Linked DNA regions of Homo sapiens. The protein of the gene in region 2 interacts with the protein of the main gene of each other region in a pairwise test. Each region holds a gene or a part of one and is shown on either strand. Other genes may lie near its edges.

Region 1 (7,849 bases), on a different chromosome or scaffold from region 2:
ATGGCTGAAAGACTCTTTTTCGCTTTTAGAGAACTCATAGAACTGGTTGGTTTTTTTTTTTTTTTTTTGAGACAGAGTCTTGCTCTGTCACCCAGGCTGGAGTGCAGTGGCGCTATCTGGGCCCACTGCAGGCTCCGTCTCCTGGGTTCACACCATTCTCCTGGCCAAATATAAAGACTTTAACAGTGCTAGGACTTGGCCATGGGTTGGCTGGATATCAGGGGACTGTGAAACTGCCGTCAGGCGTGTGCTGGAAGTGTCTGCGGTGCCGTGCCCTCTGTAGATGAGATGGGACTAGTTGGCGGGTGCAGCTCTGTTCTGGACAGGAGTCAAGGTGCCTTTGGAAATCCAGGTGGAGTTGTCAGGATGGCAGTGTCTCTGAGGATTGTACTGTCTGGCGGTGGGGCGATGGACAGAGGCAGTGAGTGGTTAATGGTCAGACCCACAGCTGCAGTCCCAGGCATCGGGGCGCTAGGGTGAAACTAGGAAAGGCTTCCTGGAGTTGTTGCCCCAGAACTGAGGCTTCAGAGGTGAGTGGGAGAGCCAGGCAAAGGGAAGAGGGAAAGGGGCCCGCACACTCCCTGCTTGAGGACCGTGCCCGGGTCACTGCCGGCCACACTCTCACGGTGTCTGTTGAATCTTCTGGTCTTTCTACTCGCGGAGGACTTAGCAGTTATATTGACAATCCTCAGACATTTTTGGTGTTATTCTTGTTTAGAATGTAAGGAGTTCCCTCAGGCTGATTTATGAACTTCATGTCCTGGGAGAAAGCAGGAAAGTTCGGCTGAGTCACCGGCGAGGAATCTGACAGTGTGTGTCCTTAAACTGTGATCTTAAACTTCCTCTCTTCAACTGTTCTGTAGGATAAGGAGCCCCGTGGAATCATCCCTTTAGAGAATCTGAGTATCCGGGAAGTGGAGGACTCCAAAAAACCAGTGAGTATTTTTGCTGAGATATTTTGAGGGGAGAAAGGGGATGGGCATTTCAAAGATTTTTTTTAAAAAACTCAAAACCAAAAAACTGAAAAGCGTGATCAGGCTTTTATTTAGTCTAATTTTTTATTATATTGTTCAAGCCAAAGATGAGACTCGAAATCACTTCTTCCTGTGCCGTCTGTCTGCTTTATCGTTTCACTTAGTGAATGTCACATGGGGTGTAGAAGTTGCCCCTCCTGCAATGGCAGCGGCAAGCACGCAGGAGTGGGCTATGTAGTTTATACCCTTGGGACACCTCCCGTTTAGTTTTCCTTTGTTTTGGGCTGTCAGGATGTTACTGGCTTGAAGTTAAAGTCGTGAGTCACCTGCAGTTCTCTCCGCATTTTACGTACATTGCAAGTGGGGCCAGCTTATATCAGGCCGGTGTGTTTGCAAACGAGACTGACTTCTATACAATTTACAGTCTCTAGAATTCCGCTTCTAGGCTTCACTTTTCCACAGGAAAATATGTATTCCTTGTATTTTGTGAAGGTCAGAAGAAAGGGGTTTTGGGGAAAGAAATCAGCATGTTTCTCAGTTAACAGCTTCCTTTGCTCCACTCTCTCCCTCTCTGTTTTGATTCTCAGAACTGCTTTGAGCTTTATATCCCCGACAATAAAGACCAAGTTATCAAGGCCTGCAAGACCGAGGCTGACGGGCGGGTGGTGGAGGGGAACCACACTGTTTACCGGATCTCAGCTCCGACGCCCGAGGAGAAGGAGGAGTGGATTAAGTGCATTAAGTAAGTGACTGCTGAGAAAGGGCAGTGCGCGCCTGGTGCAGCCCTCACCTCACCAGGTGTTGATCATCTTAGTGGTTAAACATGCCGCCCGCATCTCTTCTGTGCTCCAAGTTCTTAGGGAAGCTTCGTCCTGGTTCCCAGCTGACGGCTTCCCAGGAGGCCTTTGGATTCTTGGCTATTATAGCATATGTAAGAGAGCACGTCCCATCTGGGTTCCCCACGTGTCCTCATAGACCCAAAATAGGAAGAGGCGAGTGAGCTACCCACACAGATGCCATCTGCTCAACTGGTCTTTCTGTGTCTGACGAAGCCGCTCTCATTCTCATAGTGACAGCTCAGAGGAGATAGTAGTCATGTTCTGTAATTTGTGAATCCTGTGAGACACCATTTTCCTAGCTACAGATGAGGAAACTGAGGCCCATAGAGGTTAAGAAATTTGCTGGAAGTCACATACCGTGATCCAAGGTCCGGGAGGAGGGAGAAGCTTCCTCAGGGTTCCACAGCTAAGAAGTGGAGCTCCCAAGTCCAGGCCTCTGACTCCTACCTCTCGGCTCTGTTGGCTCCACTGGGCCACGCCATGTAAGGTCTATCACGGGGCTGGAAATTTCCTCATGTGACAAGTATCTGGAAACATGGCTTTCTAAAGTCAGTTGGCTTCTCTTGCTTAATGTTCTTCCCTGGGACTTGGTCTGCCTGGCTCTCCCTCCAGTCCCTGTGCGAGGGTCAGCAGTGAGCATTCTGACTTTGCCTTCTCTCAGTGATGCTTTCTCCTCCCTCCAGTCCCTGTGCGAGGGTCAGCAGTGAGCATTCTGACTTTGCCTTCTCTCAGTGATCCTTTCTCCTAAGAGCACAGCCTTGCCCTCTCCCTCCTGGTGCTTCATCCATGAGAGTTCACCTAGCTGTTTTCCTGAGAAAGACTCCTCAGCTGCCTGTGTGACTTCACCTGGAAGACAGGGAGAATGTGCCCACAGGTGACTGCGAAGGTCCCTGTAAGTCCTCTGTGTACTGTGTGACGGGCTTTCTCCCACCCAGGCTACAGCCCCGTTCCCGAGGGTGTGCAATATCCTCTAGCCTTTGTTTTATCTTTTGGTATTTCTACTCAGACCAGTGTAGGTTTTGGCCCAAGCTAAATACCTTAAAACTGACTGAAGATGGAGATGATGTGATGATGGAGGGAAAGGAATAGATGATTTATCCTCTCAAAAGTAATCTGAAAATTCATGCAATGAAAACAGACAGGAACCAGCTGGAGAGAGGATGGATTTGGCGCCAGGTCACGCTGCGCTGAGACTCCTCGCTCTGTCTCTCTGAGCGCAGTGCCTGGTAGGTGGGTAACCTACCTCTTCTGTGTGATAGAGGTCATTTCTGCCTCATGGGGCTCTTTTGAGGATTAAATGAGATTGTGTAGTGGGCATGGGGTTTGGCAGCTTCCCTGGCATGACAGCCATCATGGGAAGTGTGGCCCTGAGCGGGGGCCAGCCCACCCTCCATTGAGCAGACGCGGTGCCACGGTGTTTTCAGAGTCCCCTACCAGTAATGGCACCAGCCCTGTGTTCTGGGGAAGAAAACAGCAGTGTTGTGGGGGACCGGTATCCTTTTTTTTAACATACTGAAAAAAAAATTTATTGAATCATTATGAAATGTATTTTTTATATAAGATTTGAAGTAAGGGTTTAAGTTTGTTCTCATGAATGAATAGCTGATGGTCCGGACACCATTTATGGATTCATTGGCATCGCCCCCACTGACTTCATATGCTCTCCTTAGAGTGTACCCAGCTCCCCCACCACGCTTCATGCACCTGTTGCTCCACCGCGCCTCCCAGCGTGAGCGCCGCCCGCCCCTCCCCCTGTGGCATCGTGGTGTCCTTTGACTGTGCTGGCTGGCGAGTTCCCTGTCCTCCCTCACTGGTCTTTCAAAACAGTTTTGGCTGGTTTTGTACATGTGTCTTTCATATGGTTTTTACTTCTATAGTCAGAAAAACTAAGCATTTTTCAAAGTCACATTTAGAATCATTCAATCCTTTCATGAGCGTGAGTGCCAAGTTCTCCTGTGGGCTTGCTGGACTCCTCTGCTCTGTCCCGGAGCGGGCTGGCCTCAGCCTCGGGATCTGCAGACACCCCCTTTGGCACTCTGCAGGCACACTGTCCTCAAACCTTCTTGCACCCAGTGCGAGGTGGGACCATTAGGATTATCCCCATTTCACAGATGAGGGACACTGAGGCACAGCAAAGTTGAGTAAGTTGTCCAAAACCCCACAGAGGTGGAGCTGGTCCTCAAACCTGAGCAGTGTGACTCATGCAGCTGCACTGGTAACCACCGTGCAGCCTCAGCTGTCCTTGGCCCTAGATACTCCTCCCAGTGGAAACATTGGTGACAACAGGAGCAGGAAGATGATCTGGCTGGTGGATGCCTCCTCCCCAGTATTGCCAGAAAGGCTTTCGAGGTCAAGTTCAGGACGTGTTTTCCTCTCACGAAGTGCTTTTCCTGGAGTTCCCAGCACCCTCAGTTCTAGTGCCCCTGCGTGTGGGTGGTCCCAGCATTCGGTTCTGTAGAATCAGGTGTGTTCTCTAATGCTGGGACTTTCTTCACGCTGTACCCAGAGGTACAGCAGTAGAACTGCGTGTCAGCGGTAACAGCGGCTGCCATCGAGTGTGTCGGCTAGGCGCTGAGATGTGCTCTTTGAATATGGGATCTCTTTTTGACTCTCCGGAACCCAGGGAGGTGGAGGTGGGGCATCTCCAGCTTGCATGTGAGGAAGCGGGAGTTGAGAAGCAGCAGGCAGGGCCAGGCAGGGCCGGGCCTGGGGCCTGGTGTCCGACCGCAGCCCAGCCCCCCTCATCGCCTGACACTCTGCCTCTGCACACAGGGCAGTGCCACACGCACCTCTCTGCAGAACCCCCCAGCTTACCCGAAAGGGTTGGCCTACCCAGGAAGCCAAGGGAGATTCACCCCAACACCTCCAAACATGAAAGCAGGTGTCCCGGCCGCCAGATTCCCTCGTGAAAGCACTTCAGGTGGTCAGACCGCTTCCCAGTGAGATCCCATCGGGACATGTTTCTAGTGCTCTTCAGTTCCTAGCATTCCCCGGGGAGCTGCGGAAGCATTTTCTCATGGACACACTGTCTCTTGTGAATAGGTTCCAGGTCAGCCCAGGAGAGCCATAGCAGCTGCTGGTGCCACCGTTCAGCAGGGGTGAGTGCCCTGCCTGCAGTCAGGAGGCTTGTGCCCGAGCTCTGGAACAAATCATCACTTAGGATACAGCTTCCCTGGAAAGAAATTAAGTGTCAGGACTTTTAGACCATAAGTTGCTTGAAAGTCGAGAATGGCAGACATAGGGTTGTGGTGTTGCCAGTCCACTGCAGGTGCTCCAGCCCGCGGCGCGGCCTGCGCTGCTGTCTTTGAGGCTGTAGCACAAGCATGAGCTCGGGCCCCCTCCCTGTGCACCGGAGACCCAGCCAGGTCCAGCCGGTCTGTCCATGGTGCCCCACCAGCAGCATCGTGCTGGGCAGTGCCGCCTGCAGAGTCATGGAGCCTTAGTTACTGAGCAGGTGCACGTGGGGGGCTTGGAAGGCCCCACTGCATTACCATGCCAGCTATCACACACCCCGTGCCAGAGGACTGCATGTGACACGGCTTGATTACGTGGCACTCGCTGCTGCAAAGCAAAGTCAGATGTCATCATGGAAACTCAAGCACCAGTCTTTTTCTCTGAATTGGAATATAGCTGTAAGAATGTGGTATGATTCTGTTCCTAAATGTGAATTGATTATTATGTTGAAACAGGTAAAAACCCCAAAATTTTCTTGTCACGTGTTCCTGTGTCTCTTTCGAAGTGTGTCACCTTAGGTCACTGTGTGGACACAGCAAGGGTGGAGGACGCTAACTTGGCCTTTGCAGTGATGGTGGGGTGGGACAGGTGTTCTGGGGCACGAGGGGCCCCTGAGAATCCCCTGCCTGGGTGTGTTTCTTCTGATTCTGTCCCTCACGTCTCTGTTTTCTCCCTTTTCTGTGCTCCAGAGCAGCCATCAGCAGGGACCCTTTCTACGAAATGCTCGCAGCACGGAAAAAGAAGGTCTCCTCCACGAAGCGACACTGAGCGTGCAGCCAAGGGCGTTGGTCTGCGGGGGCCTTGGAGCTCCTGCTCTTCTCCCGCACCTCCATGGATGCACTGCTGCCGAGCAGAGCGTCCTCTGCCAGGCCCCGCCCTGGATTCCTAGAGACTAGCTTCAGCTTTTGCTATTTTTTTTAAGTGGGAGAAGGGTGGGCAGTTATCACTGGGGAAGAGAGGACCGGCCACCTGTCCAGCATGGGCTCCAGAGCCTTCCTCTCTCACAGGGCAGAGCTCTTGTCGGCAGGGCAGCCTCCTGGCCAGTTTCTCTGCTCAGTGTTCTGGTAGCAGAGCTCAGAGCCAACTGTTTACCTCTTGGTTGTCCCCGTGAAGAAGCCTTCAAACCCTGCACCATAAATACATGTGTCCATATATTATTATATGTTAAGAGAAAAAGGTGGAAAGGAAGAGAAGCCACATACTATAAAGATCTATTTTTTTTTTTTTAAGAGAGAACGTAGGGCTGTTCAGGTGCATTCTGCCCTGGCTGCGCTGGGGAGCTTCTCCCTGGAGAAGAGCACCTGGGGCTGCGGCCAAGGGGCATCAGCCTGGGCCCGCGGCAGGGCCTGGCCTGCCTCTCCTGTGCTGTGGGAGCTCGCTGCCTGGTGCTTGTCTGGGCGAGATGGACAGGTGAGGTCGAGGACGCAGAGGGCAGAGGCCCAGTGGAGCCTCAGACGGCACAGTCAGAGTCGGGGGCCTGCCCTGGCCGGGGTCGCAGTCGGCAGCAGCGTGCAGTCCGGCATCTCCCGCGGATGCTTTTCCATCCCAAGTGCCTGCGGAGCGCCGAGGAGAGGAGAGAGCTGACTGGACGCTTACGTTATTTTCCTCCTTCAGAATCCAAGTTCTTGTTGGGCTTTAAAGTAGAAAGTCAGCATTTTCCTTGAGCTAAATACCTAATAACCAAAACTGTGAGGAAGGTTATCGGGACAGAGGTTCCGGATAACCTGTTTCATTTTGGGTTTTCTTCCTCTTCCCCAGACTCCAGTCCTCGTTCTAGAGGAAGGAGTAGGACTTCCCCGATCCCCGTAGGGCTTCAGCTTTTTCTGCCTCAAAACCAGCCCTAACTGGACTACTCTGGATGCATTTTGTGGTGGGCCCCCTAGAGGGGAAGATGGGCCTTTATCTGCTCCGTGGGGTGCACTGGAGTGAGGGGGGTGGCCGGGCTGCCTCTCGCATCTCTGTCTTCCCCTGCAGGCGCTGTGTGAGCTGGCCCTGCCCCTCCTCATTACAGTATGAAGGGAGCCGTGACACGCAGCATTTTCCTGCCGTTCTCTCAGGGACTCTCAGGGCAGCTCCTGCCACTCCGCCAGGGCCAGCATGCCAGTCCAGGCAGAGCAGGTGGCTGGCTGTCTGGCCGTCTCGCCCCGCCCCTCCACAGGACCCTGGACCAGGGCGGTGCAGGGCGCAGCCCTGAGGAGGCAGGTGGAGGAGCTGCGGGTTTTCACAGGGCCGCGTCGCCACGGCTCCTCTGATCCTTTAGGGTTGGCGAGCATCTCTGGAAATAGCTTTTGCAGAGGAGTGGTGGGAGGAATAGAGGGGGACAGTCTGTCACCTCCCTCCCCGCCACTTTGTGTAGATCCTACCTGGAGGGAATGGCTTTAGGCACTTTTGTGCCAGAGCTTGTGAGGGTGACAGAAGAGGGTCCAGGCTGGAAACCTGAACTTTCTGGGTGGGAGAACCAGGTGGTGCCTGCCGAGGTCTGGGCGTGTTTGGGCCGGTGCTGGAGCCTGTCCAGCTGGCCCGGGCCCTGGCCTGGTTCTCAAGTGTTTCCTAGACAGAGAGGCACCTGGGTCAGTATTAGTCTATTTATCAGAGGTGTAAATAATCTATGTATAGTTTTTCTCCTTTTAGATTATTTTGTATTTGTTTAAAAGAAGTTTTGTCAAAATACAAAAATATAAAGAAATGACTGAAAGTTGTTGACAGGGTTTTTAAGAAATAATTATTCTAATTGTTTTTGTTTGTTTGTTTTTGCCTTGTAAACTAGCGCCAAGGAACTGCAGCAAATAAACTCCAACTCTG
Region 2 (7,849 bases):
CCCCCTCCCGGGTTCAAGCGATTCTCCTGCCTCAGCTTCCCGAGTAGCTGGGACTACAGGTGTGCGCCACCATGCTTGGCTAATTTTTGTAGTTTTAGTAGAAACGGGGTTTCACCATGTTGGCCAGGATGGTCTCGATCTCTTGACCTCATGATCCGCCCGCCTCGGCCTCCCAAAGTGCTGGGATTACAGGCGTGAGCCACCGCGCCCGGCCTATTTGTTACAATTAATGAGCCAATTCCACGATCACATAACCATTGTTGACATTAACCAAAGTCCGCGCTTGAGTCAGATTTGCAGAGTTTTCTCCTCACTGCCCTTTTCTATTCCAGGATCCCATGACAGATTCTGTTGTCACGTCTCCTTACAGAGTTTGAGCGGTGCTGAACTGTCAGCACCATCTGTCCGGTGAGTGACGGCTGTGGACTTAGTCTTCCTGTTGAATGTGGGGAATCAAAGGAGGGTGAAGCGGGGCTGAGCCCAGTCCTGGGCCCTCTGAAGAAGGCAAGGTGGGAGGTGGTCGTGGGTTCCTTGTCCCCCCAGAGGAGGGGCAGCAGATGGGACCTCGCCTGGCTTTCTTTTTGCTTTCTTCTTTTTTTTTTCTGTCTCATCTATTTCAGGTGCGTGTGTGTGTTTTTAATCCTGGGTAAAATACACGTAACACTGATCACTGTAACCATTTCTAAGTGTGAGGCAACCACCGTGACTATCTCCACCCAGAACGTTTTCATCATCCCCAGCACAACCTCTGCACCCATTAAACAATCACCCTCCCTTCCCCACTCACCTCAGCCGCTGGCCGCTTCTATTCTACTTTCTATCTCTATGAATTTGCCAGACATAGAGGGGCGTTCGAGAGTCCCAGGTGCCTCATCGTGGAAGTGGAATCACACAGTATTTGTCCTTTTGTGTCTGGCTCATTTCGCTTGGCATAATGTCCTGAAGGTTCGTCCGTGTTGTAGCGTGTGCCAGAATTCATTTCTCTTAGGGCTGAGTAATATTCTAGTGTGTGTATGAGCCTACTGTGTGTGTTCATCCGTCTGCGGATACGTGGGCTGCCTCCACGTTTTGACTTGTGAATAGTGCAGCAGTGAGCATGGGTGTGCAAGCATCTGTTTTGTTGTTGTTGTTTTATTTTTTAAATAGAGATGGGGCTGGAGCCCAGGCTGGTCTTGACCTCGTGGACTCAAGTGGTCCTCCTGCCTCAGCCTCCCGAAGTGCTGGGATGAGAGGCGTGAGCCACCGCACCCGGCCCAAGCAACTGTCTGCTTCCATTTTTTTTGGTATATGCCTATAGGAGAGAAATGGCCAAGCGGCTGCCCACAGGGCTGGTGCCTGTGTTTTTGTGCAGTTCTTCCTGGGCTTCTCTGAGGGAGCAGAGCACGCCTCCCAGAGGGGGCCGGGTCAGCAGGGTTCGCTGGAACCCCACAGCATCCGAGCCTGAACCGACGCCTCTCTCCTTGCTTTGCCAGGTCCCAGCATGCCTTCTGAGACCCCCCAGGCAGAAGTGGGGCCCACAGGCTGCCCCCACCGCTCAGGGCCACACTCGGCGAAGGGGAGCCTGGAGAAGGGGTCCCCAGAGGATAAGGAAGCCAAGGAGCCCCTGTGGATCCGGCCCGATGCTCCGAGCAGGTGCACCTGGCAGCTGGGCCGGCCTGCCTCCGAGTCCCCACATCACCACACTGCCCCGTAAGTCCTGCTTTTGATCACAAGAGGGCTGATCCATAACCTGGAGGGCAGGAGTTTGTTACCTGGACACCACACAGCCAGGAGGACATGAGGTGTAACCCCCTGTAGTCACTCTGGATTGAGGAGCTGGGGGTGGGGCCATGCCGTGTAGATGAGGCTCTGAGAGGCCAAGGCCTCCTTACGCTGCAGCCCAGCGCCTAGGCCAGTGCCTGGCAAGACAGTGGATGCTCAGCAAGTAGTTCCAGAATAAATAAATAAATGTGCCCAGGTCACATGCTTTGCCCGGTCTGTGGCTGCGTGTGCACATTCACTGGAGGTGAGGGACCAGGATCCTGCCTGCGCTCTCTTATTTATTTATTTTTTATTTTTTTGAGACACGAGCTGGAGTGCAGTGGTGCAATCATGGCTTACTGCAGCCTCAATCTCCCCCAGTTAAGGGATCCTCCCACCTCAGCCTCCCAAGTAGCTGGGACTATGGGTGCCCACCATCACACCCAGCTGATTTTTGTATTTTTAGGAGATGGGGTTTCACCCAGGCTGGTCTTGAATGCCTAGGTTCAAGTGATCCGCCTGCCTTGGCCTCCCACAAGTGTTGGGATTACAGGTGTGAGCCACCGCGCCCGGCCCAGCCTGCACTTTTCCGTTAACTCTAGGTCATGAAGACTTCCCGTAGGCATTACATATTTTTCCATAAGGGCTGTTTTTCTGGTGGCACAGACTGTTCGGTGAAGAAGCCATCATTTTGTAAGCCCTCTACGGGGTAGATAGATGTTTGCAGTTACCTCATTTTACATAACTGCAATAGAAGATACGACACATTCATTTAGCCAACAAGTCTTTCCTCAGCGCCATGTGCATTTCGTGCCCTGCTCAAGGCGCAGAAGATCTATCAGTGGAAAAGACAAATCAACAAAAATCCCTACCCCAGCATGAAACTGAAATCAAGCTCACTAAGCCTTAGGATTATCTTTATTTCCTTAGTGTAATCTTGGAGGAGAACAAATAGATCAAAGAATGTGCTTCTTAGATGTTTGATTCCTTTTTTTTTTTTTTTTTTTTTGAGACAGAGTCTCGCTGTCACCCAGGCTGGAGTGCAGTGGCGCGATCTCAGCTCACTGCAACTTCTGCCTCCCGGGAAGCGATTCTCCTACCTCAGCCTCCCTAGTAGCTGGGATTACAGGCATGTGCCAGCACGCCCGGTGGATTTTTATGCTTTTAATAGAGATGGGGTTTCACCATGTTGTCCAGGCTGGTCTTGAACTCCTGACCTCAGTTGATCCACTCGCCTCGGCCTCCCAAAGTGCTGGGATTATGATTCCTATTTTGTGTCCACCACTACCAGCGTTTATGGTTGTTGATTTACAGTTCAGAATGGGTGGGGGTGGCTGGGTGTACTCTCAGTGCAGCAATAGAAAGAAAGAAGTGACAGTGGACAAACCCAGAAGGTCTGAGTGTCAAACATACTCAGTGCTGGGAGCTCAGGAGGCCAAGCAGATGTGTGGGCAGCCAGGAGGATGGGCTCTTGCTGCCAAGACAAACCCAAGAGAGCAGTGGGTGAGAGGCCCGGTGAGGTCGGGAGTGGCTGCTGGAGGGTGGAGTGGGCAGGGAAGACAGGCCCGATTCCTGAGGGCTCCGTGAGCTCCTAACTCTAGGGCATGAGAAGGAGACGATGCCCTCCAGGTTGTAAATGGCGTTGCACCTGCACCTCACATACTGGCCTCATTCATCCTCCGAAGACACCCCCATCCTGAGACGCAGAGCCGACGCCGCTTGTCTCCAGTCGGAGGGCCCCTGAGAATAGTGGCGTTGCGGGGAGGTGCTGCAGAGGTGGGTCAGGAGTTGGAGGTTCATTCTAGGACAGTGGCGTGTCCTCCCAGGAGCCTCTTGGGCTGTGGAAGTGGGAGTCCTTGAGATAAGGGGCTCCAGGGCTATCCCTGCAAGTCACATCCTTTTTCTTGCTAAGCGCTCTGGGCCTGGCCCTGATCACCTCTGCAAACTTCTCAGGTAACTTCACAGCCACCGAGGCCCAGTGCTGAGTCAGCACACCTGCTGCAGGGAGGCGGGACTCTTCCCGCCTGGCTGGCCAGATGCCCGAACTGAATTAATGAACTAATCCCCGGCGCTGTCACCCTGGGGCTTGGCTTTCCACCTGGCCCTGGCTCTCTACACCTGCCAAGCCTGGTTCCCTTCTGCCGAGAACTGCTTCTGAGGGAACCTCCCTGGCCCCTGTACAGTTTGGGGACCTGGCAGGACTGCCTTCTGCTCCCCGGGAAGGGTGCGATTGGATTCCAGCTGCTCTTGTTGGCGCCTGTTTTGGCCTTCAGGGTAGCTCTCCCTGCAAATGTGGCACTCCCTCCATGGCACAGGACCTCTGGGAGCTGGGTTCACCCCAGGTCTAAGGGTCGCCTCCTGGGGGGCAGGACCCAAGGACCCTGGCTGTTCAGCAGGTGACTGTGCTGAAGAGGGGGCCCAGGGTTAGCCACGGGGTGTCATCGGAGCTGCAAGGCCCAGGGAGGGGTTGCGGGTCTGGAGACCGCTGTAAGCCATGCGTGTTCCCAGATGAGTATGTGGTGAGCTTGGTGCAGATAGATAGGGGGTGTCATCAGCATCTCCCTGGGGGAGGATGGCAGGGGCATGAGGGCCATTTAGGAAACCACCTGGACCAGGGTTTGAGGGTTTACACAGCCAGATGCTGCAGGGCAGGGCATCACGAGCCTGGCCGACAGCGCCTCTGCCGGGGCTCTGAGTCTGCCACGTGCCTGACATTTTCTGTGCAGGGCTAGACATCCCGCCTGCGCTTTGCAGCCATTGTCCCTGGTCTAAGGAGTCTCTGCCCTGACACTTTTTTGCTTCCTATGGTCACATGCTGAGAGATGAAAGGAAATGTCATCTCCAGTAAAGCCTTTCTGAAAAGGTGGACCTAAACCTTTGTTTTGGAGTCAGTATTTGCTTATTTTAACTTTTTTATTTGGAAATAATTTACTACTCACAATAAGTGGCAAAAATAATAGATCCTTTGTACCCTTCTCCCAGCTTCCCACTAACAACATCTGCCACGACTGTAGGTTCATTTTCAAACCTGGGAAGCTGGCATTGGTGCAAATAAACCACAGGCATGATTTGCTTTTTATAGATTTGTATGTCTAAGCATGTGTGTGTATGTGTGTTTCAGGCGTGTGTGTGGGATGTGTGTTAGGTGTATCTGTGTACAGATTTGTGTAACCACCACCCAGATAAAGCCAGTTCTTTTTTTTTTTTTTTTTTTTTTTTTCCAGTTCTTCGAGTGTTGATTTGTGTAAGACAATGTCTGCCAGGGCTGGTACTATTTTTTTTTTTTTTCCTGAATAATTGTGGACTCCTCTGTTTCAGGGCAAAATCTCCAAAAATCTTGCCAGATATTCTGAAGAAAATCGGGGACACCCCTATGGTCAGAATCAACAAGATTGGGAAGAAGTTCGGCCTGAAGTGTGAGCTCTGTGAGTGCCCTGGCTTTGGAGAGGGGCTTCCTCCATCTACACTGGGCTCCGTGGGCCTGGGGGGTCCTGGGGGGTCCTGGGATGGATCCCTTAGGCAAGGCCCTGGGATCAGAAAACTCGCTGGTTAATGAGTGGCCAAGAACATATCAGCTTAAGTTTGGGAAAAACACACAACAGGGCATTGTGTCAGAGGGTGACCAAAGTGACTCCCCAGCAGATGGACCAGGGAACGAACAGGTGACCTTTGAACTGAGGCCGGAGTGGAAGCAGCGAGGGTGTGAAGGGCCGGGTGAGGGTCAAAGGCAGAAGCAAGCAGGTGGGGAGGGTTAGCGTCATGCCTGCTAAGGAGCAGTGGACGGGTCCTAGCACGTGCTGTGAGCCACCCGCTGTCCAGGGAGCGGTTACCTCTGTCTTGCCAGCTTCGTGGGGACAGATAGTTCAGCTCATCATTTATGAGACAGAGAATGGGAATTTGGAGGGTCTGTGGCTGGCCTCGTCCTGGGTGCGCAGGGGGTCACCTGAGGTGTGGTCTGAGGCCTCCGGGGAAGGGCATTTCTTTGCAGGACGCAGTTTCCAGGCTCAAGAACGTGGAGGGAATTCCTAAGGGTCGCTCTTCACCAAGAGCGCAGAGCCCTGGTAGACCTCAGCATCGTCACAGAGAAAGCTGTGGGTGCAGAGGCCTTGGGGACAAGGCGGGGACGGAATTTCGTATTTCAGATGACCAAGGCCAAGTGAGTTCGGAGGGAGGCAGGAAGGGTGCCGCGGAGAACCCCGCGACAGGGCCAGATGGAGGGGGTGGAGTTCGAGTGGGAAGGAGAGGGAACCAGTAACATGGCTTGGGACTTTTTCATCCTGAGATGCTCTAATGTCCCAGCCGGGGGACCTGTGAGAGCTGGGGCAGGCGCTGGGGGAAGGAAGTCAGGGGTCGGTGCGTTGGGAACCGATCGCCGATTCACAGGAGGGGCCTCGTGGGAGCCTGGCCCTCCTCTGCCCCCCTCTAGGGAAGGAGATCTCGGAGCTGCAGCAGAGCAGCCCCCTTCACAGAGACCCCCAAGGCAGCAGGGCCGGCTCTGTGCTCATTTGTCAGACAATAGGGACCCTTAACTCGTACGCAGCACGCGTGGCTGGCTCACTGTGCTCCGTACAGGATGACGTCTAAACTTGGTGGTTGCCCTTGAAGTAGGTTTTGGAATGCCCGTTTTACAGACAGACACACCGAGGGTCAGGTTGGTCACGTGGCTTGCCGGAGGCCACCAGCTCTGATTTCTGCTTCGGAGCTGGCCCCCAGGCGCTAGTGAGAATGATCTAACTGAGGGTTTCACAGTATGGGACCCAGAGGGGTCCGAGAATGCAGGCCTGTAGAGGGCCAGACCCCGAGAGTCCTCCCCACCACACACAGCGCCTCGTCCTGGTTCTAGGGGCAACACCTGTCTGGTGGTTGCTTTCAGAAATTTTGAGGTGCTGCAGGCTGGTCCCAGGTCCCTCAAATCACATTTCATGCAGCCCAGTCTCTCGCTCTTAAAAACTAAATATTTTTAAGAGCTGGAGAGGGAGAGAGGACTTGCAGTAAGGAAGGAAGTGCAAGTGAAGGCCTTGGCCTTGTGCGGGAACCGCGCAGGGAGCCCTTCCCCGGGCAGGTGACGCCCCACAGGGGGAGGAGGACAATGGGAGGCTGTAGGGAGAGTATGCGAGTCCCCATCCGATGGGGAAGCCAGTGCTGTGGCTTCAGGACATCAAGCTGCTTTGGCAGGGGCCGCTGGGTATGGCTGGGCATAGGGGCGTAGGGGACCCAAATCCAGGCGCCTGCCCGCCACAAGCCCAGCTCGTGGGTGGGGGGACGGGGTTTTCTGCGGCGCCCCCCAGTGAGGGCTGCTTATGCCTCTCTGGTTCCCACAGAGTTGCTCAGCGCCCTGCAGGACCGGTAGGATGGGCTGCAGGGGGAGAAGCTCTGATAGGCTAGTGCCCAGGTGCAGGTGTAGGGGAGGTGAGTGGAGAGGTGGCAATTTTTCAGAACCCACAGACCCCCAAGCCCGTCCCCCACCCTGGGGTGTATCAGGTAATGGGGGGGTGAGCAGGAATCAATGGGGGGGTGGTCAGGGGGTCCCCTCTGTGATTCATCTCTGCCTCCCAGTGGCCAAGTGTGAGTTCTTCAACGCGGGCGGGAGCGTGAAGGACCGCATCAGCCTGCGGATGATTGAGGATGCTGAGCGCGACGGGACGCTGAAGCCCGGGGACACGATTATCGAGCCGACATCCGGGAACACCGGTGGGTGCCAGGCCCAGAGGGGGTGGCCAGGGCTGGCTGTCCCCTACCCATGCCGAGCCTGCCGGGACCCGGGGGGGATGGCTGAGCTGCAGCCGCATGTGCTGGCCCGCCTGGCCGCCTGCTCCCTGGCATCTTGCACCCGCTGCCGGCCTGTGTCCCAACCTAGCTTCCTTTGACCAGCATTCGGGGCCAGTGCCGATGCTCTCGGGGCGATGGCACCTGGCAGTGCCTGGCACACAAGACGAGCACCCGGAGTCTGCTCTTCCTGTGCCTGTGTACCCGGCTGGGCCTGGAGGAACCAGATCTCCTGTCCTGCGCCGCTGCCTCCTCCTCCTTGACGTGTACCTTTTATTTCTGCCTCTGGCAGCCTCTCTCCCCCTGCACTTGAAGGCAGAAGCAGCCATGTTGGGCAATTTTG
Region 3 (7,849 bases), on a different chromosome or scaffold from region 2:
ACATGGTTTCACCATGTTGGCCAGGCTAGTCTTGAATTTCTGACTTCAGGTGATCCACCCGCCTCAGCTTCCCAAAGTGCTGGGATTACAGGCATGAGCCACCATGCCCTGCCGTCCTCTGATTTTAATTAGTTCCTTCCTCTGGTTTCTTGTATCCTTGGTTTAAGATACATCCCAGGCTGGATGCAGTGGCTCACACCTGAAATCCCAGCACTTTGAGAGGTCGAGTGGGGCAGATCACCTGAGGTCAGGAGTTCAAGACCAGCCTGGCCAACATGATGAAACCCCATCTCTACTAAAAATACAAAAAATTAGCTGGGCGTGGTGGCGGGCGCCTATAATCCCAGCTACTTGGGAGGCTGAGGCAGGAGAATCGCTTGAACCCAGGAAGTGGAGGTTGCAGTGAGCTGAGATTGTGCCATTGCACTCCAGCCTGAGCACCAAGAGCGAAACTCTGTCTCAAAAAAAAAAAAAAAAAGATGCATCCCAAATACCTTTTTTTTCTTTTTGAGATGAAGTCTCACTCTGTTGCCCAAGCTGGAGTGCAGTGGCGCGGTCTCAGCTCACTGCAACCTCCACCTCCTGGTTCAAGTGATTCTCCTGCCTCAGCCTCCTGTGTAGCTTGGAGTACAGGCATGTGGCACCACACCCGGCTAATTTTTGTATTTTTAGTAGAGGTGGGGTTTTACCATGTTGGCCAGGCTGGTCTTGAACTCCTGACTTCAGGTGATCAGCCCACCTCAGCCAAAGTCCTGGGATTATGGGCATAAGCCACCGCGCTTGGCCTCTTTTTTTTTCGTGGAAGTGGGGTCTCACTGTGTTGCCCAGATCGTTCTTGAACTCCTGAGCTCAAGAGATCCTCCCACCTTGGCCTTCCAAAGTGCTGGGATTATAAGCTTGAGCCACTGTGCCCAGCAGCCCCAAATATCTTAATGGTTGTTCTATTGTTTATGTTGCCCAAGCTGGTCTTGAACTCCTGGGCATAAGCAGTCCTTTTGCCTCAGCCTCCCAAAGCGCTGAGATTACAGGTGTGAGCCCCACCATGCCCGGCCTCCTCATCCCTTTCTTGATGCTTTTGGGTGGTCTTCAATATCTCTTTGATTCTCTACTTTTCTTTAGGTTTATTCTCGAGCCAATGAACAGGAACCTTGTGGCTGGTGGCTGGCCCGGGTGCGGATGATGAAGGGAGATGTGAGTGACTGGGAATGCCTTTGGAGAACTACTGAAACAAATATGTTATTCATAGAAAGTTGCTCAGGTCATCCACAACTTCTCCTTTTTTACCATGTGCCAGTTCTATGTCATTGAATATGCTGCCTGTGATGCCACCTACAATGAAATTGTTACCCTGGAGCGACTTCGGCCAGTTAATCCCAATCCCCTTGCAACCAAAGGCAGCTTCTTCAAGGTTACCATGGCTGTGCCCGAGGATCTGAGAGAAGCGTGAGTGTTAAGGATGGTGGGAATGAGGGCCCTCTTTACAGCCCTAATCTCTGGCTTTATTTCTCCCAGGCATCACTCCCACTTTGCAGTTTTCTCTGTTGTTCCCCTGGCCCTCTACTAGAGCCCTTCTTGCTAAGAAGACACTTAGTTTCTTTATTTTCCCATCCTTGTTCTTTAACTGTGGTCCCTCTTCTTTTCTTTTCCTTTCTTTCTTTTTTTTTTTTTTTTGGAGACAGAGTTTTGCTCTTGTTGCCCAGGCTGGAGTGCAGTGGCACAATCTCGGCTCACCGCAACCTCCACCTCCTAGGTTCAGGCGATTCTCCTGCCTCAGCCTCCCGAGTAGCTGGGATTACAGGCATGCACCACCACACCCGGCTAATTTTGTATTTTTAGTAGAGACAGGGTTTCTCCATGTTGGTCAGGCTGGTCTCAAACTCCTGACCTCAAGTGATCCGCCTGCCTCAGCCTCCCAAAGTGCTGGGATTACAGGCGTGAGCCACCGCACCCGGCCCAGTCCCTTTTCTTTTCTTATTTACTCAGCCCTGCTTCTCTGAATTTTTTTTTTTTTTTTTAATAGAGACAGGGTCTCACTATGTTGCCCATGCTAGTCTTGAACTCCTGACTTCAAGTGATCATCCTGCCCTAGCCTCCCAAAGTGCTAGGATTACAGGTGCAAACCACCATGTCCAGCCTCCCCCGAACTCTTCACTGTACTCTCTGCATTCTGCCCGCTGAGTACTTTTTTCCTCTGCAGCTGCTCCAATGAAAACGTCCATAAAGAGTTCAAGAAAGCCCTGGGAGCCAACTGCATCTTTCTCAACATCACAAACAGTGAGCTCTTCATTCTGGTGAGTTTATTCTGCCTGAATTTCACATAAGCCTTTTGAACATTTTTTCTTTTTCCCTTTTTAACCCTTTTGCAGAAAGAGAAGGGCTTAAATGTGCTTATATTTATTTGTCAAGAGGACTTTATTGCTCCTGACTCCTACAGGCCCAGGTAGCCCTACCTTTTTTTTTTCTTTTTTTTGAGACGAAGTCTCACTCTTGTCACCCAGGCTGGAGAACAATGGCACGATCTCGGCTCACTGCAACCTCCACCTCCCGGGTTCAAGCAATTCTCCTGCCTCAGCCTCCTGAGTAGCTGGGATTACAGGTGTGCGTCACCACGCCGGCTAATTTTTTTTTTTTTGAGATGGAATCTCACTCTGTCGCCCAGGCTGGAGTGCAGTGGCGCGATCTCGGCTCACTGCAACCTCCACCTCCCAGATTGAAGCGATTCTCCTGCCTCAGCCTCCCGAGTAGCTGGGATTACAGGCGCCTGCCATTGCGCCTGGCTAATTTTTTTTTGTGTTTTTAGTAGAGACAGGGTTTCACCATGTTGGCCAGGCTGGTCCTGAACTGCTGATCTCCTGATCCACCCGCCTCGGCCTCCCAAAGTGCTGGGATTACAGACGTGAGCCACCGCGCCCGACATGCCCGGCTAATTTTTGTATTTTTAGTAGAAACAGGGTTTCACCATATTGGTCAGGCTGGTCTTGAACTCCTGACGTCGTGATCCGCCCGCCTTGGCCTCCCAAAGTGCTGGGATCACAGGCGTGAGCCACCACGCCCGGCCTCTGACCCTTTTTTTTTAAACCTGATAATCATGTTGCCATCTGGGTTAGAGACCCTCTCTTGATATTTGGACTTTCAGAAATAGAGTATGTAGCTCTCACCTTATGCTTGCTCCTTGCTTTCTCTCTAAACCATTTTCCTTCAGTACCCTGATAGTCAGCCTTTGTGGGACTGACAATGAGTCTCCTCCTTCCTAGCTTCATTTCTTTTTTTTTTGAAAACAGAGTATTGTTCTGTCACCAGGCTAGAGTGCAGTGGCGCAGTCTCGGCTCACTGCAACCTCCGACTCCCGGGTTCAAGCGATTCTCCTGCCTCAGCCTCTGGAGTAGCTGGGATTATAGGCATGTGCCACCACGCCCAGCTAATTTTTGTATTTTTAGTAAAGACAGGGTTTCACCACGTTGGCCAGGATGGTCTCGATCTCATGACCTCGTGATCCGCCTGCCTTGGCCTCCCAAAGTCCTGGGATTGCAGGCATGAGCCACCGCGCCCGGTCTCCTAGCTTCATTTCTTAACCCTTTTCCCGGGACTTAGGCATCCTGATTTCTAGTCCCTGGCTCTCCCTTAGTGTTTATTCCAAGCCAGTTTTAATGACTTTCCCACTGGTTTCCTCCCAGTCAACCACAGAAGCCCCTGTGAAGCGAGCATCTCTGCTGGGTGATATGCATTTCCGAAGCCTGCGCACCAAACTGCTACTTATGTCCCGCAATGAAGAAGCTACCAAGCACCTAGAGGTAACTTTTAGCTCCTTTTCCTTCTGCTGAAGGGTATTGTCTTCCTCCCTTCCTACCCTGTCCTCCATCCATGATCTTGTGTTTACAGAACAAAGACTAAGGCTTTTTCTGGGCAATTAAACCTGGGTCAGCTATTTTATCTCAGACTCCTCCAGATGGCAGAGCTCTATCATGGTATAGTGCAATTATTTTCAAATTTCTTTTAGCCAATTTTTTTTTTTTTTTTTTGGGAGACAGAGTCTCGCTGTGTCGCCTAGGCTGGAGTGCAATGACACGATCTCGGCTCACTGCAACCCCTGCCTCCTGTGTTTAAGCGATTCTCATGCCTCAGCCTTCTGAGTAGCTGGGATTACAGGCGTGCGCCACCACACCCGGCTAAGTTTTGTATTATTAGTAAGATGGGGTTTTGCCATGTTGCCCAAGCTGGCCTCGAACTCCTGGCCTCATGTGATCCACCCGCCTCAGCCTCCCAAAGTGCTGGGATTACAGGCGTGAGCCACCACACCTGGCTGAATGGTTTTTTTTGAGACGGAGTCTCACTTTGTCACCCAGGCTGTAGTGTAATGGTATAGTCTCAGCTGACTGCAACATCCACCTTCTGGGTTCAAGCGATTCTCCCGCCTCAGCCTCCTGAGTAGCTGGGACTACAGGCTTGTGCCACCACACCCAGCTCATTTTTGTATTTTTAGTATTGATGGGGTTTCACCATGTTGACCAGGCTGGTCTCAAACTCCTGACCTCATGATCCACCTGCCTCGGCCTCCCAAAGTGCTGGGATTACAGACATGAGCCGCTGCGCCCGGCCTTGGTCTTGAACTTCTAGGCTCAAGAGATCCATCTGCCTGTACTTTGCAAAGTGCTAGGATTACAGGTGTGAGCCACCACATGCAGCCTAGACTAGAATATTTATTTTTTAGGGTGGGCGCGGTGGCTCACGCCTTTAATCGCAGCACTTTAGCACTTTGGGAGGCCGAGGCAGGCAGATCAATCCGAGGTTGGGAGTCGAGACTGGTGAAACCCCATCTTTACTAAGAAGACAAAAATCAGCTGGGCGTGGTGGCACATGCCTGTAATTTCAGCTACTCGAGAGACTGAGGCAGGAGAATCGCTTGAACCTGGGAAGTGGAGGTTGCAGTGAGCCAAGATTGCGCCATTGCACTTCAGCCTGGGTGACAAGAGTGAAACTCTGTCTCAAAGAAAAAAAGGATATGACTGGGCGCGGTGGCCCACGTCTGTAATCCCAGCACTTTGGGAGGCTGAGGCGGGCAGATCACCTGAGGTCGGGAGTTCAAGACCAGCCTGGCCAACATGGGTGAAACCCCGTCTCTACTAAAACTACAAAAATTAGCCAGGCGTGGTGGCAGGCGCCTGTTGTCCCAGCTACTCGGGAGGCTGAGGCAGGAGAATCGCTTGAACCTGGGAGGCGGAGGTTGCAGTGAGCCGAGATCACACCATTGTACTCCAGCCTGGGCAACAAGAGTGAAACTCCATCTCAAAGAAAAAAAGGATATTTCTTGTTTTTTTGTTTGTTTTTTGAGATAGCGTCTCTGTCGCCCAGGCTAGAGCGCAGTGGCGCTATCTTGGCTTACTGCAACCTCCACCTCCCAGATTGAAGCGATTCTCCTGCCTCAGCCTCCCAAGTAGCTGGGATTACAGGTGTGTGCCATCACACCTGGCTAATTTTTGTCTTTTTTAGTAGAGATGGGGTTTCACCATGTTGGCCAGGCTGATCTCAAACTATGGACCTCAGGTGATCCGCCCACCTCGACCTCCCAAAATGTTGGGATTACAGGTGTCAGCCACCACGCCTGGCCTGACTAGAGTATTTCTGTGAGATCTTTTTGAATTCTGACATCGTATAATTGTCAGATTCCCTTTCGTTGGTATTATACTATTCTAAGTGAATAGGGTGTGTGTGTTTGAATACCATTTCCATTTATCAAGGGAATTGATCTTTTTGGGAGGCTTTTTTCTGTGCCTGTGCAATTTCTGGGTCATGATAATCTTTGACTTCTTCAGGGATCCTGCTCAGGGCACTGGCAGGTAAAAATTCACCATTACCTTCAGATGATACAAACTTTATTTTTTGTTTTTGTTTTTTGTTTTGAGATGGAGTCTCAGTCTGTTATCCAGGCTGGAGTGTATGTAGTGGTGCGATCTCAGCTCACTGCAGTCTCTACCCCCCGAGCTCAAGTGATCCTCTCACCTCAGCCTTTGGGTGGGTGGGATTACAGGTGCATGCCACCATACCTGGCTATTTTTTTTTTTTTTTTGGAGACAGTTTCCCTCTGTCACCCAGGCTGGAGTGCAATGGCACAATCTCCGCTCCCTGCAACCTCTCGCTCCTGGGTTCAAGCGATTCTTGTGCCTCGGCCTCCCAGGTAGCTGGGATAATAGGCACGCGCCCCCACGTCTGGATAATTTTTGCTTTTTTAGTGTTTCACCATGTTGCCCAGGCTGGTTTTGAACTCCCGACCGCAGGTGATCCACCTGCCTTGGCCTCCCAAAGTACTGGGATTACAGGCATGAGCCACTATACCTGGCCCTAATTTCAGTATTTTTAGTAGAGACGGAGTTTCACCATGTTGGCTAGGCTGGTCGCGAACCCCTGGCCTCAAGGGATCCACTTGCCTTGGCCTCCCAAAGTGCTGGGATTATAGACATGACCCATTGCACCCGGCCTAATTTTTGTTGTTGTTTTTTAATTTTTTGAGACGGAGTCTCATTCTGTCGTCCAGGCTGGAGTGCAGTAGTGCGATCTCAGCTCACTGCAGCTTGTGTAGTTAGCGCAGAGTGAGCAAAGGGAGACCGATACAAAATTCGGTCAGAGAGTAGATCATGTAAGACATGTACGGTAGGCTGAGGAGGGGGGATTTTATTGTGCGTATACTGAGAAGCCATTGAGTTAACAGTGCCTTCTGGTTTTTTGTTTTGTTTTGTTTTGTTTTGTTTTTGAGACGGAGTCTCGCTCTGTCACCCAGGCTGGAGTGCATTGGCGTGATCTCGGCTCACTGCAAGCTCCACCTCCCAAGTTCACGCCATTCTCCTGCCTCAGCCTCACGAGAAGCTGGGACTACAGGCGCCTGCCACCACGCCCGGCTGATTTTTTTGTATTTTTTTTTAGTAGAGATGGGGTTTCACCGTGTTAGCCAGGATGGTCTTGATCTCCTGACCTCGTGATCCACCCACCTCGGCCTCCCAAAGTGCTGGGATTACAGGCGAGAGCCACTGTGCCCGGCCGAAAGTGCCTTCTGTTTTAAACTCCTGTTTCAATGACAGATGGAAAGGGGGGCAAGAATGGAAGCAGGAACAGAGCACAGTAGTCCAGGTGAGAAACTTGAACTGGAGTGCTAAAGGAAGAGAGAGAGAGTAGTTTTATGTAGGATAAATTTTACGAGTAAAACCAGTAGGACTGACAGGCTCTGTGATACTGAGAGATACATATTTGGTCTCCTGACCAGGCTCCTGGCATTCAACTTCTAAAATCCTTGGAATCTCCAGTGATGTGTGTTTTTGTGTGCTGATGAGTTGATTCATGGCTAGCCCCTCTAGGTGGCTTCATGATTAGAGGGTTGGAACTTTCAGCCTCACCCCCACCAACTTCCTGGGAGGGGAATGGGGCCAAAGGTTAAGGCAATCACTGAGGATCAGTGATTTAATCAGTCATGCCTAGTAGTGAAGCCTCTAAAAACCGGAAAGGGGCCGGGTGCAGCGGCTCACGCCTGCAATCCCAGCACTTTGGGAAGCCGAGGCAGGTGGATTGCCTGAGGTTAGGAGTTTGAGACCAGTCTGGCCAGCATGGTGAAACCCCTTCTCTACTAAAAATACAAAAAAAGGGAGGCAGAAGTTGCAGTGAGCAGAGATCATGCCACTGCACTCTAGCCTGGGTGACAGACCCCATCTCAAAAAAAAGAAAAAAAAAAAAGAAAACCCAGCTGTTCTGCAAGCTTATCTAGAAGACGCTTATAGGTCATTGTAGATCTCTTCCCCTCCCCTCCTAATGTAGTGATTTTGAACACTCAACTTAGTTTATTTTTCCAACTTTCTCTTCTTGCCTG
Region 4 (7,849 bases), 650 kb from region 2:
CCCCAGCCTTGAGTGGGAGACACACAAGTCCTACGTGACTTATTTCTGTATTTTCAGTATGAGCTTAGTGCTCTCTCCTTGGCCTCTCCAGGGAAAGATTATTTAGACTCATATTCAGAATCATCAAAATTCCCTTCTCTCCAAACACCAGCCCTGGCCTGGAGACCAAGGCTACCATTGGGGTTTAGTGGAAAGGATTGTGGACTTGACGTCAGAAGATGTGATTTTTTTCTGTGTCCCTGATGAGTGGCATGACCTTAATCAAGTCATGTCCACTCTCTCTGTCTCTTTTTCTTTCTCTACAAAACAATGAGGGCTCTCACTCTTCAAGAACAATGTTGCCTGAGTCTGTGGCCCATCCTGCCATAGTTCCCGGGACACAGAAGGCACTCAGTATTGCTGAGATTTGCCGACTCTAAAATCTGACGAGGCCGCAGTGCCTTGGTGGGAGGGCTCCCCACTTTCTCTCTCTGGGAGCGTGTCTGTCTGTGCTCAGACATGTATGAAGCACAGATCCTGGCCTGTAAATCCATCCCTGAATCCTGGGCTTCCACTTGGATGGCAGCTTGTGAGTCTGGAGATCGAATCTGCTGAATAATTAGAAAGTCGCCCCCGGTCTTTGTGGATTAGTATCCTTTATCAAATGATGGCTCTTTCACACCCAGGCCCTCCCCCAGTGAACCTCATTGGCAGCATCTTAAAAACAGGAAGACTGAGGCTGCAAAGGGTGAAGGGCCTGCCCAAGGTCCTGTGGTGTGTAGAGCGGTGTCCCCTAAAAATGTTTGTCCACCAGGAACTTGGGAATGTGACCTCACTTGGGAATAGGGCCTGTGCAGATGCGATTGGTTGGGAGGAGGTCACACTGCATTAGGGTGGGTTCCCGTAAGGGTAGAGGCCGCACAGAGACACAGAGAAGCCATGTGCCGACTGAGGCAGAGACTGGAGTGATGTAGCCACAAGCCAAGGGACGCCTGGGGCCACCGGAAACTGGAAGAAGCCAGGAAGGACCCTTCCCAGGAGCTTTCGGGGAGAGCACAGCCCTGCCAACACCTTGATTTTGAACCTCTAGTCTCCAGAAATGGGAGGCAATACATTTCTGTTGTTTGAAACCAATCTAGTCCCCTAACCAGGCTGGCGGAGCAGGGACCTGAACCCACCTCTGTCCTGCTCCATGCTGCCTGGGTTCATGCTGGGCAGCCCCACTTCCTGTGGGAGCCAGCGTTGACCTCACATCTACGCCCCGACCCTAAGCAGGCTGTGTCCTGCCCTTCCATGGCCCATGCTCTCAGCCTGACACCGAGGGGGTGGAGGGGACTCTCTCAGTGATGAGTGACCAGTCACTGCTCTGAAGTGGCCGAGGTCCCTCTTGGGGCAAATGCATGAGGCCCCCTTGCCCGCGTTGGTCCTCCCCAGTGAAACGTGCCCATAGGCACAGGTCCGCAGAGAGAAGGAAACGCAAGGACCCGTTCAGAAGTCGGTGTGACTCACTCTGACGTCAGCAACCTGCAGTGGGTCTTTCCCAGGCCACACTCACTCGCATGGCAAGGCGGTCCTCCCCGACTGCTAAAAACAAAAGTCAGGAAAGGAATTTCCCCACCACCTACACACTCATGCTGCTCCCCACCACCTACACACTCATGCTGCTCTGGGCTGTGCAGCCTCAGTGCCCCAGCTTTCCTAGAGACCGTGGGAGCTTCCCATTTGCCTCTAAAGGCTCACCTCTCACGTGGGAGACAGCAGTGAGCCCCAACTTCGGGGCTCCAGGGAAAGGCTTGCATCAACCTTGACCTTTTTTAGGGGGTGAGCAGATCCTGTTTGTAAGTGCCCTGCCGTGGAGTGGGGGCAGGGTACGTCTGTGCACCGACACGGCGTCTCTAGCAGGAAACTTTAGGTTAGGAGGCTGATTTCCCACTGCAGCCTTGGCGAGCAGGCGCTGCCGTCCTCCAGCAGATGCTGCTGAAGCAGAAATTGGGCAGGCCCAGAGGCTCAGTCAAGGTCACCCTGCAAAAGGGGGCAAAGTGCAGCCTAAAACTAGGTCTATCTGACACCAAAGTTTGTGTTGTTCCCGTCAAGACACAGACCGCCTCCCTAGGACATAAAATACTTTGTGGCTCAACTGAAATCAGATCCTGGCTGCTTTGGTGATGCCAGCTGCTCTGCTCAGACTGACCTGAGAGCCCCTGGCAGGACCAGGGAGGGCTAGGGCCACAGGGGCAGAGGACACCCAAAAAGACCTGAGGCTCAACCACTCCCAGGACTTCCTGCTTCACCAAAACAAGGTGAACCTTAAAGACACTGTGTGTTTTATAGTTTTGTTGCCTAAAGAGTTTTCTTCTTGAAACTCTACGATTAAACAAAAAGCCGTTGAACTGGAGCTCGGGCCTGCAAGTCCAGGCCACTGGGTAACGTGCACACCCCGGGGAATGGAGGAGCCGTTTACTCTGTGCATCTGAATCGTGCATTCGGGCAGCTAGCCTGCAAACCGATAGGCCCCCGAGACCCTGAACCCACATCTCCATATCGTCCTCTTTCCTACTTCCTGGAAAAATCTACAGGGATCCAGCCATCTCCTTTATGATGTGAGTTCTGAGCGGGCCAAATGAGCTCTGAGTTCTGAGAGCCCTTGCCTTGTGGAGGAAGCATGGAGGTCGGAGGAAGGAGACATTTAGGTAACGGTGTCCTGGCACCCTCTGTGTTTCCCTGATTTCACAGACTGCTCCGTGAAGCCTTGCACCAAACAGCTGCATCTGACCTTGGCCCACAAGTTCTACCCCCACCACCAGAGGACGCTGGAGCAGCTGGCCAGAGCCATCCCCCTGGGCCACAGCTGCCAGTGGACCGCAGCACTCTACTCCCGAGACATGCGCTTTGTGCACTACCAGGTGAGAGAGCTGAGCAGGGGCTCATAAGAAGCAGATGAATGGGCTGGGCTCGGTGGCTCACGCCTGTAATCCCAGCACTTTGGGAGGCCGAGGCGGCGGATCATGAGGTCAGGAGATGGAGACCATCCTGGCTAACATGGTGAAACCTCGTCTCTACTAAAAATACAAAAAATTAGCCAGGCACGGCGGCGGGCACCTGTAGTCCCAGCTACTCAGGAGGCTGAGGCAGGAGAATGGAGTGAACCCGGGAGGCGGAGCTTGCAGCGAGTGGAGGTAGCATCACTGCACTCCAGCCTGGGCTACAGAGCGAGACGTCTCAAAAAAAGAAGCAGATGAGTGAACGGCCACTCACCTGACAGCATGTACCCCCTGGAGCCCTCCAAGGGAGATATGTTAGTAGCAAGGAAAATTTCTATTGCTTCTCTAAAGCCATTCTCTTTCTTGTGCAATTTACAACCAGCATTCTTTTATATGTGAGTTAGAGATGCACAGACAACAAAATAGAAGCATTTCCAATATTAGAAAAGGAAGCTGGGTGTGGTGGCTCACACCTATAATCCCAGCACTTTGGGAGGCTGAGGCAGGTGGATCACTTCAGGTCAGGTGTTCGAGACCAGCCTGGGCAACAGGGCAAAACGCTGTCTCTACTAAAAATACAGAAAATTAGCCGGGCGTGATGGCACGAACCTGTAATCCCAGCTACTCGGGAGGCTGAGGCAGAAGAATCACTTGAACCTGGGAGGTGGAGGTTGCAGTGAGCAGAGATCGTACCGTTGCACTCCAGCCTGGGCAACAGAGCGAGACTGGCAAAAAAAAAAAAAAAAAAAAAAAAGACAGAAAGGAAAGGACTATTGTAAAGATCTATGAATACATGTTTTGCTTATTAATTCTTTTTTATTTATTTATTTTTTAAATGTAGGGGCCATGCTAATCTTCTCTGCAGCATTCCAATTTTAGTTATATGTGCTGCCAAAGTGAGCACAATTCACTTTAAAGAATGATTTGAGTGAAACCTCATTCTGGGACTTCCTGCCCATGAATCGATGGGTTTAGAAACGAAGTGTGTGATGCTCCTTTCAGACCCAGAGAGCACGTGTGAATGAATCCACCATGTTCTGTATCGTATGAGGTGTCAATAACCTCACACCGAGGAAGGCGGATGTGAAAGTCTGCTTATGCCTTCAGATCTTTTGTAGACAAAAAAGTACCTAGATGGATGGATGATGGATAGATCCCAAAATGTATCTCTTTTTTTTTTCTTTTTTTCTTTTTTTTTTTTTTTTTTTTTTGAGAGGGAGTCTCACCCTGTCACCCAGGGTAGAATGCAGTGGAGTGATCTGCGCCCACTTCAACCTTCGCCTCCCAGGTTCAAGTGATTCTCCTGCCTCAAGCTTCCCAAGTAGCTGGGACTACAGGCACCCGCCACCATGTCCAGCTAATTTTTGTATTTTCAGTAGAGACGGGGTTTCACCATATTGGCCAGGCTGGTCTCAAACTCCTGACCTTGTGATCCACCCACCTCGGCCTTCCAAAGTGCTGGGATTACAGGCGTGAGCCACCGCGCCTGGCCCCAAAATGTATTTCTAAATCTATCCAAAGAATTCTATGCTGCGTTTCATTACATTCTGTGCTATATATTGCCAGACAAAGCTTTGGATGGAGTCTTGGAGACACAGAACACATTGGAGGGGCAGAAAGCAGGAGGTGGCAGGTGATAGGCCTCCTATTGCTGCCATTTTCCAATGTAAATCTTTGCTCGAGACGTGAAACCCCTTTGCCTCTTTTCTAGACCCTGAGAGCCCTATTCCAGTACAAACCCCAGAACGTGGATGAGCTGACGCTAAGTCCTGGTGACTACATCTTTGTGGACCCCACGCAGCAGGACGAAGCCAGCGAGGGCTGGGTGATTGGGATCTCACAGCGGACGGGCTGCCGGGGCTTCCTGCCGGAAAACTACACGGATCGAGCCAGTGAGTCTGACACGTGGGTGAAGCACAGGTGAGTGCTGCCTCTGGCTGCAGCCCCGTCATCTCTCTCTGAGTTACTGTGTGAGAGTGCCCACCTGCCAACAGTGTGCTTCTAGACCATTCCATTATTGGTAAAATTGCATTCTGTATGCTGACAAAATTATTCCTGCAGGTATATAGTAAACATCTTGGTTCGTCCCTGGTTTTCTGATGATAACATTCAAAAAAGAATGAATTACTCTGCATTAGAGTAATTTGAGATGGTAATCCCCAAATTACTGCAAAATACTACTTCTTTATCACACACATAATAAATTATACTCAGAGGTCCTGAGCTTGGGTTTATTTATTCTTCTGCTCCGTGTATGAAATGTAAAGTCCTAGGTCGTATTATTAGTTTTCTATGACTGTATAATAAATTACCACTAAAACAAAGTGCAATTATTATCTTATGGTATTTATGGGTTGAGAGTCAGAGTCCAGCTTCACTGGGTCCTCAGCTCGGGGTCTCAAGGCTGTAATCAAGGTGCCTGCCAGGGCTGGGCTCCCCACTGAGGCTTCACACCCTCGCCTGAGCATACACAGTTGTTGGTGGGAGTGATTTCCTTGAAGCTGTAGGGCTCCTGGTGAGTTGCTTCTTCATCAGCTGAAGAATCTCTTAATTTTAGCACCTTTTAGCATCATCTGGTGAGGCTAAGGATTTTCAGAATCATCAGATACTGGTTCTTTTTTGTTCGATGTTCTTCCCTCAATTTATCTCTTTCCTCTCCCGCTTCACTATAAATAACATGAAGAAACCAGGTGATACACTTAACACTTTGTTTGGAAATAGCCTTAGCTATGTGACCAACATCATCGCTTACAAGTCCTGCTCTCCATGGACAATTTCATTAAACTCTCTGGCACACATGGGAAGGATCCTCCTTGCTCCGATTTCCTGGAACACCTGTCACATTCCTTTCTGAGTTCTCCCCGGAGGATTCACCTTTAGCATCCCTATTTCCTCTAGCAGTCTGTTCATGGTGATTTGGGCTTTCTCTGCTGTGCTACTCAAAAGTCTCTTAGCCTCTACTCGCTGCCAAGTCCCAAAGTTGTTTCCACATTTTAAGTTCAGAAGGTTTCCAACTTACAATGGTTTGGCTTAGGATTTCATAATGTTACGAAAGTGATATGGGTTCAATAGAAACTGTACTTCAAGTGCCCATACAATCATTCTGTGCTACATTTTCAGTACAACATTCAACGAATTACATGAGATACTCAACACTTGATTATAAAATCGGCTTTGTGTTAGATTATTCCGCCCTATCATAGGCTACTGTAAGTGTTCTGAGCGTGTTTAAGGTAAGCTAGGCCAAGCTGTGATGTTCAGTAGGTTAGGTGCATTAAATGCATTTTCAATTTATGATGGGTTTGTTGGAACATAACCCCATCTGAAGTTGAAGAACATCCACTGTTTGTTAGAGTAGCACCCCATTCCTGATACCAAATTTAGTAAAAGTTTAACCAGAGATGCAGAACCAGTCACTTTCATACAATATATAATACATATAAGTATATGTACAGTTGTCCCTTGCTATCTGCAAGGGATTGGTTCCCGGACCCCCACAGATACCCAAATCCTCATGTTCTCGAGTCCCCGATATAAAATGCTGTAGTATTTACATGCAACTTATGCACATCACCCTGTATCCTTTAAATCATCTCTAGATTACTTGTGATATGTAATACAGTATAAATACTATGCAAATAGTTGTTATACGGTATTGTTTTTTATTTGTATTTTTTAAATTGTATTGCTATTTTTTAATTGATTAATCTTTTGAATATTTTTGGCCTGCAGTTGGTTGAATCCACAAATGCAGAACCTCCAGATACAAAGGGCTGACTATACATACATAGTATTTTATATTATATACACATGTATCACACACATATATATATGGAAAGGTATATATGTATACACACATCTATATTGATTTACTACAATGAATTGCCTTATGGAATTACTGGGGCTAGCTAAGCAAGGGCAGACAGGCAGGAAGGGAGGAGCCTACTTAGGCTGAAAACCCATGGGCAAGCTGAAGCTTGTTGTCCACATGTGGCAGTTGGAAGGACCACCCGGGTGATGGGAGAGCAGTCACAGACACAGCTGCTATTGAAGTCTCTGAGTGTGAGGAAAGCCTAAGTTTTTAAAAAAAAATGCCTTCCAACTGCATAAGTCAGACCTGCTCAGAATAACCTTGCTTTTGATTAATTTAAGCTCAACTGATTAGGGGTTCTAGTCACATTTGTAAAATCTCCTTCCAGCAGCACCTAGACTAGCATTTGATGGGATAGCTAGGAAGGCTGTGTGTGATGCTTAGGATGGCTACTGCCTCCCTTCCATCCTCCAGCTCTCATGAGAATGCCTCTTGTAGCCCACCCTGATCAGACATGTGCTAAAAAGGAAGTCTAGGAACTGTCGTTCAGTCTGGCCAAGTTGCCACACCATAAAGCCATTGCAAAGTGTTAAGGTGGCTCTTGTGAGCTTTTTCACTCTCTTCTCCCAGGTTCCAGTTAGGAGAGTGGAGAGAGCAGGCAGAGGTCAGAGTACACATGGTGAAAAAAGAGAAAAGCTGCTCAGCCTCATGGGTGTGCCTGTTGGGGTGGAGCTCTTGCAGGTGTCAAGACTGATGGTTGGAACAACTGAATGATGAGAGTGGGAGGAGAAGGGCAGAAATACACAGAAAAACCCTATGTTGTGGTTCTGGGCTTCCTGGCACCTTCAGAGCTGTGTGGCTGGGGAAGAGAGCCTGGAAAAACACCATCGTGGCCATCCCTCTGTCTCCAGGCAGGAGGTCTTAAAACCATTTTATATTTCACTCATTTGTTTAATTCTCTCCTAAAATGCTCCACAGCTTCTCTAGGGTTCCCCTCACCACCCTGACAAATAAATAAATCATTAAGTTGAACACAGATGTATCAGCATCTACTCAATCTATAGATTTTCAGATCTGT

Evidence for each region.
Region 1: the proteins of CBS (region 2) and CYTH1 interact in binary tests that used the Homo sapiens proteins (3 or more experiments, as listed by UniProt).
Region 3: the proteins of CBS (region 2) and FXR2 interact in binary tests that used the Homo sapiens proteins (3 or more experiments, as listed by UniProt).
Region 4: the proteins of CBS (region 2) and UBASH3A interact in binary tests that used the Homo sapiens proteins (3 or more experiments, as listed by UniProt).

The regions. Positions count from the first base shown.
Region 1 is NC_000017.11:78,674,057-78,681,905, reverse strand, and holds part of CYTH1 (cytohesin-1), read left to right. Parts: intron 1-863; coding exon 864-935; intron 936-1,561; coding exon 1,562-1,716; coding exon of another isoform or gene 1,717-1,720; exon of another isoform or gene 1,721-4,855; coding exon of another isoform or gene 4,856-4,883; exon of another isoform or gene 4,884-5,736; coding exon 5,737-5,815; 3' UTR 5,816-7,849. UniProt on the Homo sapiens protein: Promotes guanine-nucleotide exchange on ARF1, ARF5 and ARF6. Promotes the activation of ARF factors through replacement of GDP with GTP.
Region 2 is NC_000021.9:43,065,825-43,073,673, reverse strand, and holds part of CBS (cystathionine beta-synthase), read left to right. Parts: intron 1-332; 5' UTR 333-408; intron 409-1,472; 5' UTR 1,473-1,480; coding exon 1,481-1,689; intron 1,690-5,058; coding exon 5,059-5,165; intron 5,166-5,269; exon of another isoform or gene 5,270-5,617; coding exon of another isoform or gene 5,618-5,896; exon of another isoform or gene 5,897-7,040; coding exon of another isoform or gene 7,041-7,149; intron 7,150-7,296; coding exon 7,297-7,431; intron 7,432-7,849. UniProt on the Homo sapiens protein: Hydro-lyase catalyzing the first step of the transsulfuration pathway, where the hydroxyl group of L-serine is displaced by L-homocysteine in a beta-replacement reaction to form L-cystathionine, the precursor of L-cysteine.
Region 3 is NC_000017.11:7,597,351-7,605,199, reverse strand, and holds part of FXR2 (RNA-binding protein FXR2), read left to right. Parts: intron 1-1,119; coding exon 1,120-1,191; intron 1,192-1,294; coding exon 1,295-1,443; intron 1,444-2,197; coding exon 2,198-2,291; intron 2,292-3,674; coding exon 3,675-3,791; intron 3,792-7,849. UniProt on the Homo sapiens protein: mRNA-binding protein that acts as a regulator of mRNAs translation and/or stability, and which is required for adult hippocampal neurogenesis. Specifically binds to AU-rich elements (AREs) in the 3'-UTR of target mRNAs.
Region 4 is NC_000021.9:42,413,730-42,421,578, forward strand, and holds part of UBASH3A (ubiquitin-associated and SH3 domain-containing protein A), read left to right. Parts: exon of another isoform or gene 1-2,579; intron 2,580-2,712; coding exon 2,713-2,882; intron 2,883-4,671; coding exon 4,672-4,880; intron 4,881-7,849. UniProt on the Homo sapiens protein: Interferes with CBL-mediated down-regulation and degradation of receptor-type tyrosine kinases. Promotes accumulation of activated target receptors, such as T-cell receptors, EGFR and PDGFRB, on the cell surface.